Regions from separate parts of the Homo sapiens genome. Here region 1 is linked to region 2. Evidence: fine-mapped expression QTL. A gene starts in region 2. The other region holds a variant in brackets. All regions are shown on one strand. Distances are between the middles of the regions.

Region 1 (2,926 bases), 180 kb after region 2:
GTATAAATGATCTCATCACCCAGGTAGTGAGCATAGTACTTTATTGTATCATTTATATTTGATTGCCATTTTGTTTCAAACTTTGCAGGTTTTCTGCATTGTATTTGTCTTCTTTTGGAAAAGCAGGAAGAGGGCTTTGGGTTATTTTGTCCTAAGAAATAAAGCGTGAGGAAAATTGTAAAAAGTTAGCCAGATTACTCAGTTGCTTTAGAATACATTAATTTTCTAATATTATAGGTCTAAAACCACACTGGAGTAAGTCTGTTTTTATTCCATTTCTTCCTCTTGATCTATAAATTACTGTAGAGTAGACAGCACAGAAGGTTTACCTGATGTCAGAGTTACAGTTATCCCACTTAACCATGAGAAAAGATAGAAAAAAACTATTGTATAACTATTTGGAGATACCATTGCCATTGATAACATTCCAACATTGTAGTGTCTTTTTTGATTTTTGCTACAAAACTACAAGTATATTTTCTACTGGTTCTTGAAGATATGTAAGAAATACCATTAACACATGAACTATTTTTCTGAATAGATGATACTTAGAAATCTAATTGGATAGAGTTCACTTGTGGTAGTAAGTTCTATTAAGATAGAAAGCTACAACAGGTAGAAAGTTTTCTGTTGAGCTCTCTGTGGAAAACTCTATTTTGAAAATGAATATATTTTGATTTAAACAATACAGAGAAGTCAAAATGGACACAATCTTCTTGTGGAGTCTTCTATTGCTGTTTTTTGGAAGTCAAGCCTCAAGATGCTCAGCTCAAAAAAATACCGAATTTGCAGTGGATCTTTATCAAGAGGTTTCCTTATCTCATAAGGACAACATTATATTTTCACCCCTTGGAATAACTTTGGTTCTTGAGATGGTACAACTGGGAGCCAAAGGAAAAGCACAGCAGCAGATAAGACAAACTTTAAAACAACAGGAAACCTCAGCTGGTGAGACTCTTACATCTCCTTACTTATACTGGATAAGATATGGACGCATTCATTTTTTAATATTAGAAGTTCAGGATAAAGAAATTTTAATAAGTGAAAATGTAATGAAAAGTACAAAATTGTAATAAAATGGAGAATTGTAAATGTAATTTTCATTCATTTATAATTAATTCCTTTAAAAGGTTACAAAAATTATTAAGAAATTGACATCTATATAAATGTAAAATTAAGTAAATATTTGTACATTTTCTTTTAGTTTGTTTTAGCCAGTTTTAATTACTTGAGATTATACTGGGCGTGCATGTGTGTGTGTGTATGTACATACTCATAAAATATACATCTATACACATACATATTCTTCCACTATCACTATGTTGTGATCATTTTCCCATGTCATGGAACTGATTCAAAATATGATTTTTAATTACTGTATCTTATTGCCTCTTATAGAAGTACCATTACTTACTTAGCCTTTCTTCAGTAGGTTGTTTCCAACATTTCTCTTAAAAAAAATGCACCTCATCTGTAACGAGACCAAGAAAAAACATTAATTTGTTCATTTTAAAAGCTTATTTGTTACTAGTTTTAAAAGGAAAATGGAAAAAAAAGGATTTAAATAATCAGAGGCCTTTGTGCTTGTGAATGAT[GATT/T]GTTTTGTTGGAGTCTCCTCATGGACTGTCTGGGATAGTGTCTATCCCTCTTACTGGGATACTGTGCTTTTGTGCTGGCATCCCATTTGAAAGAATTGTTGCTTGGCTGGTGTGGTGGCTCACACATGTAATCTCAGCACTTTGGGAGGCTGAGGCAGGTGGATCACTTGAGGTCAGGAGTTCGAGACCAGGCTGGAAAAATACAAAAATTTGCAAGGCATGGTGGCATGTGCCTATAGTCTCAGCTACTTGAGAGGCTAAGGCAGGAGAAGTGCTTGAACCCAAGAGGCAGAGGTTGCAGTGAGCTGAGATCGTGCCACTGCACTCCAGCCAGGGCAAAAGAACAGACTCCTTCTCCAAAAAAAAAAAAAAAAAAAAAAAAAAAAAGTTGTTGCTCATCTCCTCAGCTATCTCATGCTCTCAGTTTCTATAGTTGTTTTAATTTTCAGCTTTTGGATTACTCTGAGATACTGTGTTCTAAATACAGATTTTTGATTTGGGAATTTAGTTGCTACAACTATAATTTCAGTGTATTTTTCTTATCACAGAGTAGCAGTATTTAGAAATTTGCTTTCCTGAAAATACTATTTACAAGATTTTATTTGCTTCATTTTAAATAAAGACAATTTTATACAGAAAAGACGTTGGTAATAGTGAAGTGAAGTTAATTGTAAGAATTTTTCTTTGCAAATAGTGCACACTGAAGCCAATGTATTCCAGATTTAGTCTTGATTAATTTCAGCAAATCCCAATATACCACTCCCAGAAACGTTTAAACCACATGCTATAGCTTTGAAAAAGTAATACAATATTTGTGAAGATACATAAATTAGAGTCTCTGAAAACTTAAATTACTTTAAATGGATACATGATATAGAGAAACACAGAAGTTTTAACAGGTGTGAATTGTGAACATGATAAAGTAATAGTAATAACGCACTATCAAAAATATAGAAAGGATATCAGCCACTGTTTCATGTGCTTAATATATATTCTCTCATTTAATATTTATAATTACTTTGTTAAGTAAACAACCTTGTAATAAACCTGAGAAAACTGAGGCAAAGAAAGGTTAAATAATTTGCTCAGTGCTAATTCCTAAAATAATTCAGTGAGGATTAAGAATATAAGAGCAATATATTCTCACTAATATATTAATAAGAATATTAATTCTCATATATTATGTAAGGCTCTCAGTGTCCTCAGTTCTCCTTCTTTACTTCATTGTCAAAACATCTGCTCTGAATTTACCTCCTCCATTTTGCTGAACATCTGTTAATACTCCCTTTTGCTTTACCTCTGATAATGCTGATGACGAATCAAAGGCT
Region 2 (2,926 bases):
TCTCCTGGTAGTGAATAAGTCTCATGAGATCTGATGGTTTTATAAATGGGAGTTACCCTGCACATGCTGTCTTGCCTACTGCCATGTAAGTCATGACTTTGCCCTCATTAGCTTTCTGTCATGATTTTGAGGCCTCCCCAGCCATGTGAAATTATGAGTCAATTAAACCTCTTTCCTTTATAAATTACCCAGTCTCAGGTATGTCTTCATTAGCAGTGTGAAAACAGACTAATACATGCAGTATCTGAAGTTTGGGAGCCATTCTGTTCTCTTCCGTATGTTACTATTTGTGTGACCTTTGGCATTTTCTTTGCTTTTTTTTTTTTTCTTTTTTGAGACAGGGTCTCATTCTGTTGCCCAGGCTGGAGTGCAGTGGCACAATCTTGGCTCACTGCAACCTCTGCCCCCCAGGTTCAAGGGATCCTTCTAACTCAGCCTCCCGAGTAGCTGGGATCACAGGTGTGCGCCACCATGCTCGGCTGATTATTTTTGTATTTTTACTAGATACAATGTCTCGTCATGTTGCCCAGGCTGCTCTCGAACTCCTGAGCTGAAGCCATCCACCTGCCTCAGCCTCCCAAAGTGCAGGGATTACAGGCGTGAGCCACCTTGCCCGGCTTTTTGCTTCTTTATCAGTAAAATGGGGATAATGATCACATCTGCCTTGTAGGATTGTTGTGAAGCTTAAACAAGACAATGAACATAAAGTTTTAGTGCCTGGCACATGGTTAATACTCAAAAAATGTTAATTTTTCTTCTTTTTCTCCTCCTTTTCATTATTATTAGCTGAACCAGTAATGACACTGCAAGCAATTTTATCATTAGATTTATCATATTATGTTATGCTGTGTTTTTTTATCACATTTTCAACAAGTTGGAAGCTTTTTTGAACCATCTCTATTTTATATACATAGAAACTAAGACAAAAAGAATATAAGAAACAGATTCCTTTTATATAAAAATAAAACATTTTCTGTGTATAAAACATAAAATTCCAGAATTTCATGCTTTTCTCTTTGACTAATCATATAGTTTCATAATATATATCCTATATAATGGTAAAAGTTGTCTTTAAATAATACAAGATGTCGTTTAATAAAAAATGAGTGGAATGAACTGTCCTTTTATTTCAAAAAAAACCATTTCAACATTTACATTATATATTTAAACTTTCAGTTGGAGAGGGGGAAGTGAAAGGGAAAGTTTTAGTTGGCTTTGTGTTGGTTGCCAGGAAACATACAAAAGGATCAGAACAGATGAAACAAACAACTCCACATTGCTGGGAAGGTGGCATTCAGAGTCAAGTACTTCATTGGTAGGGAAACTCTGCAGCTTTGTCATCTAACTCTTCCAGACAAGAAAGTGGAATTGAAAACTACAACATGTTAATGGAAGCAAGGTTAGTTAAAGAGATTTTTGGGAAGGTGCTTTTCTAATGCATTTAAAATGAGGATTGGAAGTTGTTTTCTGTGTCAGTTACTATAAATGTGGGGAAAGCTTTACACATTTTTAATCAAGCCAGGTTAAACAGAGTATAAGGAAGGGGTAAAAATACCATTTTAAAAGCATTCAACTGTAAATTTTGAAAATAAACTCTAGAATCAAATAAGTGAGAGGGTTGAGGGCTTTCATTTCCTACCTCAGCTTGAACATTTTGCCTCCTGATCGTATGCCTTGAAAGGTTTGTACTTTCATTTTGGAATTCTGTTGCTAAGTTGAGTTTCTTTTCAAAGGCACCTGTTGAAGGAAAAAGAAGATCCATCCTTATAGAAATAGTTGAAGGCAACTGAGAAAAGGTGAAGCCATTATGAGTTGCCAGAAAGCTGTACTTGAGTTAAACATAGGGTCACAGCTTGGGCCAAAGAGTCCTGAGAGAACAGAAGGTGTAACTGCATTTGAAGACTATGGCACAGGCCTGCTTGAAAACCAACTCAGCGTGGGTGACTTTGTAAAAATACAGAAGGCCTTTGAGGTAAGTGTGAAGCTTATTGACCAGATAGTTTGAGTTGTTCATGAAGGAGCCTAGAATGAAACACAGAGATATTTTTCTTTAAGCATTAAAAAAATACACTTAATTGTTATAGCAGAGAATTAAAAATAATTGGTTAGGCCTGGATTTAACACAATGTGCTTGGTAGCTTTGCCCCTCAGTTCTTTGGGCCAAATAATATTCTTTAGTTTGAAATTGCTTCACTGAATTTCATTACTATCAAGAAAGAACTATTTATTGTTGGAAAAAATTTTTTTCTTAGAGATCAACATATTTTGGGGAAACAAAAAATTATGGCTGTGAGTGAAGAAAGCCAGATCTCTAAGGTGACCTCCAGGAATAATTGTTCTTGCATTTAATACGGACATAGAACTCAGCAAATGCAAATATGCATACCCAGTTTGCAAAAAATTTCCTCCTGTCTCACTCACCCTAAGTGGCACAGCTCCTTTTCTAAGCTGATTCTGGCACTTTGTTGTCCCAAGATCCCTTATGAGGGACGAGTCTCCCACTCATTTTGTAAATCCTGGAACAATGCCAATAAAAACAAAATTAGAATTTTTCATTTTAACTCTGCATAAAAAATAAACCATAGGAATTTAACTGTAAATGAATAATTTTCTTCTCTCTTAGTCAATGAATTTTGAATTCTGCAGCTATGCATAATGAACAGCATACATCAAAGTGGTTTTTAGTTTCAAATATGGGTAGAAAGAAGTGCTCTTCCATGACGTAGAATTTAGGTAGTCATGAGCCTCCAACATTTCTACTATATTATGTTTACTAAAGTATGATCTAGGGCCTTCTTAAGATTGTCCGTGGGTGCTTGGAGTATCCATACTAATTTGAAATAGAAAATATTTTGGAATACCACCTGGAAATTAATAAAATATAATAAAAGCTCACAATATATTAGCCTGTAATAGGCACACATTT

Evidence for each region. PIP is the estimated chance that this variant, and not a neighbour inherited with it, causes the effect. A credible set is the group of variants that fine-mapping cannot tell apart.
Region 1: its variant is the best candidate, but not a certain one, in a credible set for the expression of WDR49 in lung (TOPMed, PIP 0.73).

The regions. Positions count from the first base shown.
Region 1 is chr3:167,469,610-167,472,535 of GRCh38, reverse strand. It overlaps SERPINI2 (serpin family I member 2), which reads left to right. Exons shown (of 9, transcript NM_006217.6): 2 at 692-948. The coding sequence starts at 702. It overlaps LOC105374197 (a long non-coding RNA gene), which reads right to left. Exons shown (of 3, transcript XR_924683.3): 1 at 2,896-2,926; 2 at 1,415-1,471. Among named protein-coding and RNA genes, the nearest start is that of SERPINI2, 3.0 kb to the left of the region's middle. The variant GATT/T (reference allele first, on the strand shown) is at 1,596.
Region 2 is chr3:167,652,307-167,655,232 of GRCh38, reverse strand. WDR49 (WD repeat domain 49) reads left to right here and starts at 1,291. Exons shown (of 19, transcript NM_001366157.1): 1 at 1,291-1,399; 2 at 1,734-1,972. The coding sequence starts at 1,808. RefSeq lists enhancers at 1,031-1,553, 1,554-2,077.